Homo sapiens: one gene and its partners. The protein of the gene in region 2 purifies or fractionates together with the protein of the main gene of each other region. This does not show direct contact. Each region holds a gene or a part of one and is shown on either strand. Other genes may lie near its edges. The genes, in order: PCLAF, EPB41L4B and RAB21.

Region 1 (4,248 bases), on a different chromosome or scaffold from region 2:
TCTGCCTGCCTCGGCCTCCCAAAGTGCTAGGATTACAGGTGTGAGCCACCATGCCTGACCGATTCTGTTTTATGTATGGTATTTAGAGAGTGAAAATCACTCCCCAGGGGTGTTGTGAGTAATTAGAAGGTAAGCATAAAGATAGAAAAAAATTATGACCCTTTATCCTAGAGTTATGCTCACTGTGTGACAGCGATGTGGTCTTACCACATTTGGCAGGGTCTTTTCGTTTCGTTTCGTTTCATTTCATTTCCTTGCCTTGCCTTGCCTTTCTTTTCTTTTTTCTTTTCTTTTCTTTCTTTCTTTTCTTTTCTTTCTTTCTTTCTTTTTTTTTTTTGAGACAGGATCTCGCTCTGTCGCCCAGGCTGGAGTGCATGGTGTGATTATGGCTCACTGCAACCTCTCCCTCCTAGGCACAAGCAATCTCCCGTCTCCTGAACTCAAGCCATCCTCCCACCTCAGCCTCCCGAGTAGTTGGGATTACAGGAACATGCCACTGCACCCGGCTAATTTTTGTATATTTTTTGTAGAGACGGGTTTCACCGTGTTGGTCAGGCTGGTCTCGACCTCCTGGGGTCAAGCGATCTGCCCGCCTCGGCCTCTCAAAGTGCTGGGATTACAGCCATGAGTCCCCGCTCCTGGCAGATTTGGCAGATTATTTAGGAGCTCTGACACCATTCGGTTCTCAAGAAGACGTTTTATTAGTTTCTTTTTATGTGTGTATGTATATACAATCCCCCTAGTTTTTGTTTAGTCTCACATCATCCTAAAGACATTTAAAAAAACCCTTGTAAACAAGTTGTATTAGCTTCCTTTTCCCCATTCCATAGAATTGTTTTAGTATGGATGCTGTACAAAGAGTTCATGCCTGGGGGACTAAAGGAAAGTTCTCAAGTTCTTTTAATTTTGATTTGCATCAAAAAGTCCGCTTAATTTCAGGTTTCACCTCCAGGAGTCAATCATTATGGACTTAAAGCTATAGTAACTTTTGAAGATCGTTTGTAATTCGCTGTCTTTGCTAGGTTTTCTTTTCTAAGCAGGCTCATTTCTGTAGTTCAGAAACTTAGCACCCACTAGTCGGGTACCCCTGGAGAGTCCTGGTACCGCCCACCTGGGGCGCCTACGAATCCTAGGCCTTTGCGTGTTGATGGACGGATTCGCGCTGCAAGAAGCCTCGCCGCTGTCACCACTGGGCATTGGCAATTGGTTCAGGGGGAACGGCGCGGAACCAATGGGAGCGGTGGCTCGGGAGAGACCTTGGAGCGCGCGGGAAAGAGACCAATATAAACTGTGGCGGGATAGTTTTCGGGTCCTTGTCCAGTGAAACACCCTCGGCTGGGAAGTCAGTTCGTTCTCTCCTCTCCTCTCTTCTTGTTTGAACATGGTGCGGACTAAAGCAGACAGTGTTCCAGGCACTTACAGAAAAGGTGAGGCGATCGAGTGTGGTACTGGAGGGCGGGGGGGTCCTCCCGGCAGCCTGGCCACGGGCGACAGACGCCAGAGGTCCCCCTGGGCCCTGTGCGCCAAACTCATCTAGCTAGCCAGGGAGTAGCCGCCTGGCCCCTTTACCTAGAAGAGGAAGTCGCAGGGGCAGGGTAAGGTTATCCTGCTGTTCTGGATCGCCAGGCTCTCCTCTCCAAGCTGCTGGGGTCCAGGACTCGGTGTCGGAACCCTCCTGCCCCTTCTGAACACCCTTTTTTGCCTCTCTTCACAGTGGTGGCTGCTCGAGCCCCCAGAAAGGTGCTTGGTTCTTCCACCTCTGCCACTAATTCGACATCAGTTTCATCGAGGAAAGGTAAGAAGAGCCCTCCTAAAGTTAGGGGATCAGTCCTGGCACCTGCAAGCCCCTGGCTTGCCATGAATTTCTTTTTCTTGAGGTACTCACGCCCGAATTTCTTCCTTGCCCTGTGATATAATAAGAGAGGCTGGGCCTTTTGGCCGGCTAGGGTAGAGGTGGGGGGGAGGTCTCATGGAAGGGAATTTCAAGCCTTGGAGTTAAGGACCGACACACCTTATCTTCAAGCCTATTTTTCTTTTCTTTTCTTTTTTTAGACAGGGCCTCTCTTTGTTGCTCAGGTTGGAGTGCAGTGGTGCAATCACTGGTCACTACATCCTCCACTTATGGGGCTTAAGCAATCCTCCCACCTCAGCCTCCAAAGTAGCTGGGGCTACAGGTACATGCCACCACGCCGGGCTTTTTTTTCTATTTTTTGTAGAGATGGGGGTCTCACTATGTTGCCTAAGCTGGTCTCAAACTCCTGGGCTCAAACAATCCTCCTACTGGGATTACAGGCATGAGCCACCACAGCCAGCCTATCAATTTTTGTTTTTTGGTTTAGTATTTTCCTTTTTCTTTCTCTTTCTTTTTTTGAGACAGAGTCTTGCACTGTTGCCCAGGCTGCAGTGCAACGGTGTGATCTTGGTTCACTGCAACCTCCGCCTCTCGGGTTCACACGATTCTCCTGCCTCTGCCTCCTGAGTAGCTGGGATTACAGGTGCACGCCACCACACCCAGCTAATTTTTTTGTATTTTTAGTAGAGATGGGGTTTCACTATGTTGGCCAGACTGATCTCAAACTCCTGACCTCATGATCTGCCTGCCTCAGCTTCCCAAAGTGATGGGAACACAGACGTGATCCACCACGCCCAGCTATTATTTTTCTTAATAATAACAGAGGCTATTTAAATATTGTTAGAGGCTATTTAAAAGCCCCCTTAGTAGATTAAGGGTTTGAACAATCGTTAACAGTGCTGAGTGCTCATTGCAATGTCTACTAAACTTTAATAAAAATGTTTTTGTTTTTGTTTGCTTGTTTTTCCTTTCTTCCTTACTCTTTTTTGTTTGTTTGTTTGTTTGAGTATGATGTCTGTGGGTTTTCTCCAACTTTGCAGCTCCTAATACTGTCTTTGGGAGAGTAGGAGTGAAACCCGGCAAAGGAAATAGCTTCACGCTGCTCCTTCTGTGCGTGGAGTAGATGAGAAAATGCCCTGCCATCTGGTGCCTCATTCCTTTCAGTAGGAAATTTGGCAGACAGGGAGATTAACGCTACAAGATTTAATTAAGAACATAAAGGTGAACACTGTTTAGGACTTCATGGGTTTTAAAGTCAATTCAAATTTCTCCCTATTATAAACATTTCATTAGAAAACATTTACTATTTCTATCTCTTCAGATAAAAGGAAATAGAAGTTGATGAATTTTTTTAGAGTAACTTATACCCTGTACCACTAGACTAAGTTTCTTTTTCTTTTCTTTTTTCTTTTTTTTTTTTGAGACAGGGTCTCACTCTGTTGCCCAGGCTTGAGTGCAGTGGTGCAATCACAGCTTACTGCAGATTTGACCCCAGGGTTCAAATGATCCTCCCACTTCAGGCTCTTCCCAAGTAGCTGGGACTGTAGGCGCATGCCACCACACGCCCGCCTAATTTTTGTGTTTTTTGTAGAGATGGGGTTTCATCACATTGCCCAGGCTGGTCTCGAACTCCTGGGCTGAAGCAATCCTCCCGCCTCAGCCTACCAAAGTGCTGGGATTACAGACGTGAGCCACCACGCCTGGCCTGATGAAATTTCATTAGAGCCGCATCTCATCGTCTGGTCCACTGTTGAATCACCAGAGCCAACTAAATAGGCCCTTACTGAATATATGTTGAATAAATGCATCCTTTAAGGCATTTTAAAAATCTCTATTTTTAATCCGAATAATTGGATGTATGAAATGGGTAATATCCTTATTTTAAAGATAAGGAAATTTAATATCTGGTTATATAACTTGATAAAGGTCACACAACTAAATCAGTGGAGTTGGGTTTGAACCTGTTGCTGCTATATTTTTTTTTTTTTCTGAGACACAGTCTCGCTCTGTCACCCAGGCTGGAGTGCAGTGGCATGAACTCGGCTCACTGCAACCTCCGCCTCCCGGGTTCAAGCAATTCTTCTGCCTCAGCCTCCTAAGTAGCTGGGATTACAGGCATGCGCCACCATGCCTGGCTAAATTTTGTATCTTTAGTGGAGGCAGGGTTTCACCATGTTGGCCAGGCTGTTCTCAAATGCCTGACCTCATGATCCAACTGCCTCGGCCTCACAAAGTGCTGGGATTACAGGCGTGAGCCACTGCGCCCAGCTGCTGCTGTATGTTTTCTAGTAGTAAAAGCATTCCTGTAAGGTTCCTTTGGGAAAACTGTGAACCAAAAGATCACTATCTTTTATATGCCATTCCTTCTTTTGGAGGCGAAGGCGGGACGGTTGCCT
Region 2 (3,650 bases):
AAGGACACTGGATCGAGAGTCAAGGGCTTTGCAACCTTGTGAAGGGCCGTGTGACCTTGAGAAAGTCATTTCTCTTCTTCTGGTCTGAGACATTGAGAAGGTTGTCAAGGGCTGTGCAACCTTGAGAAAGTCATTTCCCTTCCTCTGGTCTGAGACATTGAGAAGGTTGAACTAAATGGCAGACTGAATCCAGCAGTGGTATGTATCGTTCTAAGATAAAATTTGACTTTTATAAGGCTGCCTCTTTGGATGTAAGAATAGGTCTAGTCAAAAGGGGGCCTGGCTTCTGCCCTGTCTCCTTCTCCTTCTGTATCTTAATCCCTCCCTTCCTTCCATCTGCAAATGGTTACTGAACATCTACAATGTGCCAGGCATTGTCAGAGGGAGATAGAGGGCTAGAAATGCAAAGCGGTAAATGTGGATGCTCCCTCTGGAGCTTTCGGTCTAGTAGGAGGGAGAGACAACTAACAAACAGATCTAGCCTGTCAGGCAAAACACTGGGAACGACGCCTAATGCTATAATTCACCCAAAAGGAAGGTAAGTAAATATTTGCTCCTAAAAGACAGCCTGAACAGAAATGTCAGGAAAGATGGAATAGAGATCCCTCCAAGGCAAAGGCACTTGGTTTAGCAGGCAGGCTAGGGTAGTAATCAGAGGTTTGATGTCAGCACCAAGTCCATGGTCATGGCAGAGCCCCGGCCCTTGGCACCTTGTTTATGTTGATGTGCAGAGGAGGCCAGGGTCCAGCAGCCTTCACAGTTTCCAGTTCCAGCTTCTTTAGATGGGCAGCGGCTTCACTGAACAAGGCAGGTGTTCCTGGACTCAGTTCTACAAAGCAGCCAGGAGAAATAAATAAGGAAAGGTTGAAAGGACAGATAGATACAGGGGAAAAGGGACACTTGCCAGCGCCCGATTCCCAGCACCCTTTCTGCCGGCCTCCTCCTCCAGCAGCTCTCATGCCTTCAGTATGCATCAGCTGATAGGGTGTGAGAATATCTGAGGTCAAGGTTTCAAGGCTTAACTGTCCCACACATGAGCTGGACGCCCCTGGGTACGTTGTTTTGCCTCTCTGACCCTCTGAGCCATTTAAAAATGAAAATAAAATTACTTACCTTGCAGGGTTGCTGTGAATATCCAATGAAGTCATTTATGTATAAATGCTTTAAAAATGGAAAAGCATTATGCAAATTGGAAAGATTAGTGTTCAGGCAAACAGGCATATAACGTGCCCTTAAAAGCCATGTTATGTTCCTAAAATCAAATCCATTGATTTTTATTTCTGTGCTACTTTGGATTCATTTGCCACTACTTCTCCTTCCAGCTTGAATTTACTCATTAATACATTAAATATTCATTAAATATTAAATATTCATTACATATTAAAACTTGTGCCAAGTATCGTTAGCAACTGGGATCTGGGAGCTGAAAGAAAGAGGTGAATGAGACAAAATTTTAATCTAATGGGGATGACGGACACATGTGGAGATATTCCGAAGAAGACTGAGAAAAGGTTTATTTAATTGCTAAAGGAGCAGGACGGAACTGAGGATGGGTGTTAGAGAACATTTCACTGACAAGCGAACATTTGAATGGGCTGCTAAGGGATGTGTAGGAGTTCAACAAGGTGGGGAAAAGTATTCCAGGCAAAGGGAACAGCAGGTGCAAAGGACAGAGTTGAGACCCAGTAGAGTATTTTGTAAGAAGAGAGTAGTTCTGTGTAGCTAGAGTATGGTGAGGAGTGGAGGGAAGAATGAAGACCTTGGCAGGGGTCAGGATACGCAAGGTCTGTGTATGGCCCTGCTCAGAAGCGAGGACTTTATCCCAGACAGTGAAGAGCTAATGAAAGGTCTTATGGCATGTGGTCAGAGTTATGTGGTGAGAACTATGACTTTGGCAGCTACTATTTGGAGATTGTCCTGGAGCGGGTGCCCCTTAGGAGGCTGTTATGGTTATTTAGATATACAAAGATGAGGCAGGGACTAGGGCATGGGCAGTGTGGATAGTGATGAGGGACAGAGTTCGGATTCTTCAATACCAAGTGGGTGTCGAGTTTCCATTTCCAGCTCAGCTGACACAGAGTTGTTCCCTGTGGCCCCAAGGTGAAGGTTGGATGGCCCATCCTGTCTCAACAGCTCACAGACTCACACAATATCAGAGCTGGAAGATTCCTTGGTCATCATCTCAATACCCTCTACCCTATTTCATGGATGAGAAAATAGAAGATCAAAGAGGGAACTCAGTTCAAGGGTAAGAGCTAGAATCGAAGCCTCCACTTCAGTACTTTTCTTTTCTTTTCTTTTCTTTTTTGAGACAGAGTCTCACTCTGTCGCCCAGGCTGGAGTGCGGTGGCACCATCTCGGCTCACTGCAACCTCCACCTCCCAGGTTCAAGTGATTCTCGTGCCTCGGCCTCCCAAGTAGCCAGGATTATAGGTGCACGCCACCAGGCCCAGCTAATTTTTGTATTTTCAGTAGAGACAGGGTTTCACCACGTTGGCCAGGTTGGTCTCGAACTCTTGACCTAGGCGATCCACCCATCTCGGCCTCCCAAAGTGCTGGGATTACAAGCATAATTACAACCTCTGCCTCCAAGTTTCAAGCGATTCTCCTGCCTCAACCTCCTGAGTAGCTGAGATTATAGGCACGTACCACTGCGTCCAGCCCTCAGTACTTTTCAAACCACATTTGATAAACAACAGGTTCTTTTCATACCAAAGATGAATTCTTTGGTAACGTATAATAAAAGTGAGTTTCTAGAAAAATAAAATAACGGACATGCCGAATCAAAGCCCATATTTTTATTAGATTTAAAAGATATAAACTCATTCTATCATATTGCTAACAATATTTCTGGGCTGGGTATGGTGGCTCATGCCTATAATCCCAGAACTTTGGGAGGCTGAAGCAGGAGTGTTGCTTAAGCCCAAGAGTTCAAGACCATCCTGGGCAACATGGCAAGACCCTGTCATAAAATAAAATAATAAAATTTCTAATTGCTCACTCTCTATTTTTGTAACTTCTCTTTCTGGGACCCATAACAGTAGACAGATTGGATCTACCTGACACCACTTTGCTCTCCCAAGTGGAATGTCAAAAATGGGATAGAATGAGTTTTTCTATGATGAAGAAAGTAGAAAGTCCAGCCATCACTCCCCTCCCCTCTTTCTCTTTTCCATTGCTCAAGCCAGTGCTGGGTACCACAGAGGCAGAGAACTGTTAAGAAAGGAGGTGGAGGCGGGGCACTGTGGCTCACGCCTGTAATCCCAGCACTTTGGGATTTTTTTCGTCCAGCTCTTTTGTAAGGCACTAATCTATTCATAAGAGTGGAACTCTCATGACTTAATCACTTTTCAAAAGCCTTCACTTCTTGACCGGGCATGGTGGCTCACGCCTGTAATCCTAGCACTTTGGGAGGCCGAGATGTGTGGATCACCTGAAGTCAGGAGTTTGAGACCAGCCTGGCCAACATAGTCAAAATCTGTCTCTACTAAAAATACAAAAATTAGTTGGGTGTGGTGGCACATGCCTATAATCTCAGCTACTCGGGAGGCTGAGGCAGGAGAATTGCTCGGACCTGGGAGGGGGAGGGTGCAATGAGCCGAGATCATGCCACTGCACTCCAGCCTGGGTGACAGAGCCAGACTCCAGAC
Region 3 (3,650 bases), on a different chromosome or scaffold from region 2:
CCTCTGCCTCCCCAGTTTAAGCAAGTCTCCTGCCTCAGCTTCCCAAGTAGCTAAGATTATAGGCATGTGCCACCAAACCCAGCTAATTTTTTTGTATTTTTAGTAGAGATGGGAGTTCACCATGTTGGCTGGGCTGGTCTCTAACTCCCGACCTCAAGTGACCCGCTGTCCTCGACCTCCCAAAGTGCTGGGATTACAGGCGTGAGCCACTGTGCCTGGCCTCAATCTTCTCTTAATAAAATACTTAAACTATGTCTTTTCATGCAAAACGCGAGAGGGAGATAACAAACAGCAGCACCAAAATAACTTTTAAAAATCATTAAATCTACAAGGTACCTATCGTTTCATTTTCTACTTTTGGATTAAGTTTTTCCATTTATCATTAATAACCCAAGGGCTAACTTGTATATCTGCTCTATCAGATTTAACTGGGAAAAAAAATAAAGAGAAAAAACAAAACAAACAAGGTAAGTAATTTTACCAAGAACAAGCCTGTAACTCAAGGCAAGAAAAGCTTCTTCCTTGGCATTATTCCCTGTAGTTACACATTGTTGACATATTCCAAGAAGAGCTTTAGGAGAAAAGGTCAAATAAGTAACCCATCTGATTGTGATGAAAATTCAGAGGTAATTAAATGGTAACTCATTTTTGGTCCCAAACAACTTTAAGAGTCATACGTATGTGGTGTGTTTTTGAAGGGAAGTAAACTAATGAGATAACTTTAAGACTGTCCTTTTAAAACTTTTATTATATTTGGCAAGGAGAAAGCTTAAATGTGATGTTGTTCCTCCTTTTTCCTCTTCACAATAAAGGAACCCGTCCAGCCACACCAAGTTTAAGAGCCCAATGCGTATGGAATTAAGGAAATATGTGTGATTTTTCCTTAAGAGGGAAAAACAAAAGCCCCCATATTTTTCTGAAGCTCAATTTCAAATATTTCCCTTCCCTAATATTTGAGAAAGCCATGTAATAAGGCATTAATTATTCTAACGTAAATTAATTCATATGAATCAAATATTTCATTAAACATATGAGTACACCACCATGTTGTAGGTGAAAAGAAAAATAAAATGTAAGTGGTCACCAGTTATGCACAAATTATATACTTTATTTTTAAAAAGAAAACTAATCACATTAGTGAATAAAGGTATATTAATGGAAACTTGAAAAATTACTATTGTTCTTCTAAGACATCTACCCATGAATAGAATACCTTCTGAAAAGAATCTTCATCTGTTATGTCATAAACTAAAATCGCTCCATTTGAATCTCTGTAGTAAATTGGACCCAATGCATGGAATCTCTCTTGACCTGCCGTATCCTAAAGAAAGCAACAAATGCTTATTAGATCAGAAGAAAAATACAAATCTGCGATTGCAACTATGGTGAACTTTTTGATTAATTGGAAAATATGGCATAAAGTCAAAGACAACCACAAAACCCTATTAACAGAAACAAAACAGCAAAACAGGCCACACACAAAATTTTTAAGTTATGACCAATATGTAATGTTTTAGTGATATACAAAAGTTACTTTTTCCCTCCCAACCTTCCTCCTCCTCAGCACTTCCCCACCCCCATTAAAATACCAGTTTCAGTTGCCAGAGGGTCAAAACAACCAACACAGTATTATAAGCCAGGAATAGGCTCTGCCCTAAGTTTAAGTTCCCACACTGGGAGAGACAGGGAAATGGCACGTGCATCAAGATCACCAGTCAAGAAGTATCTGCTGCATTATCCTCACCCACCAGCCATTCTCTTAGAAGGCTGGAATATGGAGACACAGGGTGGGGAAAAAAAGGCCAGGCAAGCTGTCCACCCACCCTGTCCTCTCTCTGAAGTGGAACCCCTCTGAGTTGACCCTTCTCCAACTGAAAAGTTATGACAGCAATATTCAAATATACAATTATATTCCAGATATAATTCTCAACCAGATTTTAAGATTCTTTTTAATTAAAAAAAAAAAAAAGTGTTGGCTAAGCTCCAATTAACTTTAAAAAAAAAGAAAAAAGGAAGAAGCCTCCACGCATAATAGTTGAAAAAGTTCACTTACCCATATGGCAAGGTTTACTCTTTTCCCACCAATATTTAACTTCTTTGTTAAGAATGATGCCTAAAAAGAGAAATAAACATTAAACAATGTTTCTTATAAAATAAGGTTCTTTATCCTAACAACTATAGATGAATGAATCATCTCAATGTAAAAGTTATCTGGGAGAAAAAGTAATCACCGAGTTTTAAATTAATGATCGAAATTGTTTCATTAAAGATAAGACATTATTTACATTTTTATCTAAAAAAAAATCTTGTTTTCTGAAAATAGGTTATACAAAACACACAGAAAATAAGTATTTTTTTCTTAATATTTTTCCTTATCTATGTGGAACAAAATTTTCCCTAGAGCATTTAATTTGATGCTACCTTATCACAGAAAGAAAGAGTCTAAGAGATTTCTAAGATAAAATAAATGTTTACTGGTGGTTTACTTAATGTACAAATATCAATATTATTCAAAATGATTCCACAGTTACTTCATAACTCAATTGTTTAACATATATTCAATAATTATCCTAAGTATTAATGTCAGAGAAATGAAGGGACACGGTTCTACCCTTTATACTCTACTAGAGAAATAAAAATAAAGAGAATTACGATTCCATGTGATAATTGCTAAAATGGAGGGTCTTGCCAAATACACTGTAAAGATAGTACTGAGAAAGGAAGTATAACAGTTGTCTGAATGAGTCAAAGAAGGCTTCAGAGAGAAGGTAATGATCTCCCCTTTAGGAGCAGTAGGGACTGTTCCTGATAGATGAGTGAAGCCACTGAAGCCTCAAACACATGACTCCATCCCACAGGGAACTCCAAGTGGGTATGGTCAATACCAGAGATGAAACTACACAGATGGACTTTACCTTGTGGGTCTCAACAAAACCTGTTCTAAGACACCAGACATGTATTTAGACACACACACACACACGTCAAGTATACTTTGGAAATACTATGTATTGATTTTTATACACCAACAATGCACATTAACACATTAGGATGCTGCCAAAAGGAAGGCTAGCTGACTGTATTTATACAAGCATTTCCCAAACTCATTTGAACTTTTTTTCCCTGATTTTCTTCTGTATAGCACTGAACCTTTTTTTCCTGGAAAAATACCAAATTCATCCTAAAGAACAACTGTTTGAAGAAACAGGACTACTGACAAGGGAGAATCACTGAATGGTTTCAAGCAATGGGGAAACAGATCTATATTTTAAGAGAATGACCCTGGGATAGGAAGGGAGGTTGGACTAGAAAAGATAGGTAGAAAGAACACTTACAAAATTGGAGAAAAATATAAAAAAGGAGATCTGAACTAAGACCATGAAGATAGGAAAGAAAGAAGAGTATCAAGAGTTACTGAAGACAAAATATATCCAGAATCCAGAGTCAGCTGACGTGTTTAAAAAAAAGGAATAGAGAGCTGAGTTCAGACCTGTATAGAGATAGTCACATTTAGGTGTTATTTATATAGAAGAAAGTGCAAAGAAGGTGAAACAGATAAAAGGTCAGGATGGTGAATTACTGAAGGAAAGAAACAATTGAGATTTCTTTTACCTCAATTTCAGGAAGGTCTTTTTGCTATGGGCACACCACAG

The links.
Region 1: the proteins of EPB41L4B (region 2) and PCLAF purify together in Homo sapiens (affinity purification with mass spectrometry; one large-scale study listed by BioGRID and IntAct). This does not show direct contact.
Region 3: the proteins of EPB41L4B (region 2) and RAB21 purify together in Homo sapiens (affinity purification with mass spectrometry; one large-scale study listed by BioGRID and IntAct). This does not show direct contact.

Annotation. Positions count from the first base shown.
Region 1 is NC_000015.10:64,378,505-64,382,752, reverse strand, and holds the start of PCLAF (PCNA-associated factor), read left to right. Parts: upstream 1-1,311; 5' UTR 1,312-1,381; coding exon 1,382-1,427; intron 1,428-1,714; coding exon 1,715-1,795; intron 1,796-4,248. UniProt on the Homo sapiens protein: PCNA-binding protein that acts as a regulator of DNA repair during DNA replication.
Region 2 is NC_000009.12:109,212,990-109,216,639, forward strand, and holds part of EPB41L4B (band 4.1-like protein 4B), read right to left. Parts: intron 830-3,650; coding exon 711-829; intron 1-710. UniProt on the Homo sapiens protein: Up-regulates the activity of the Rho guanine nucleotide exchange factor ARHGEF18. Involved in the regulation of the circumferential actomyosin belt in epithelial cells.
Region 3 is NC_000012.12:71,768,263-71,771,912, reverse strand, and holds part of RAB21 (ras-related protein Rab-21), read right to left. Parts: intron 2,114-3,650; coding exon 2,054-2,113; intron 1,322-2,053; coding exon 1,214-1,321; coding exon of another isoform or gene 1,211-1,213; intron 1-1,210. UniProt on the Homo sapiens protein: The small GTPases Rab are key regulators of intracellular membrane trafficking, from the formation of transport vesicles to their fusion with membranes.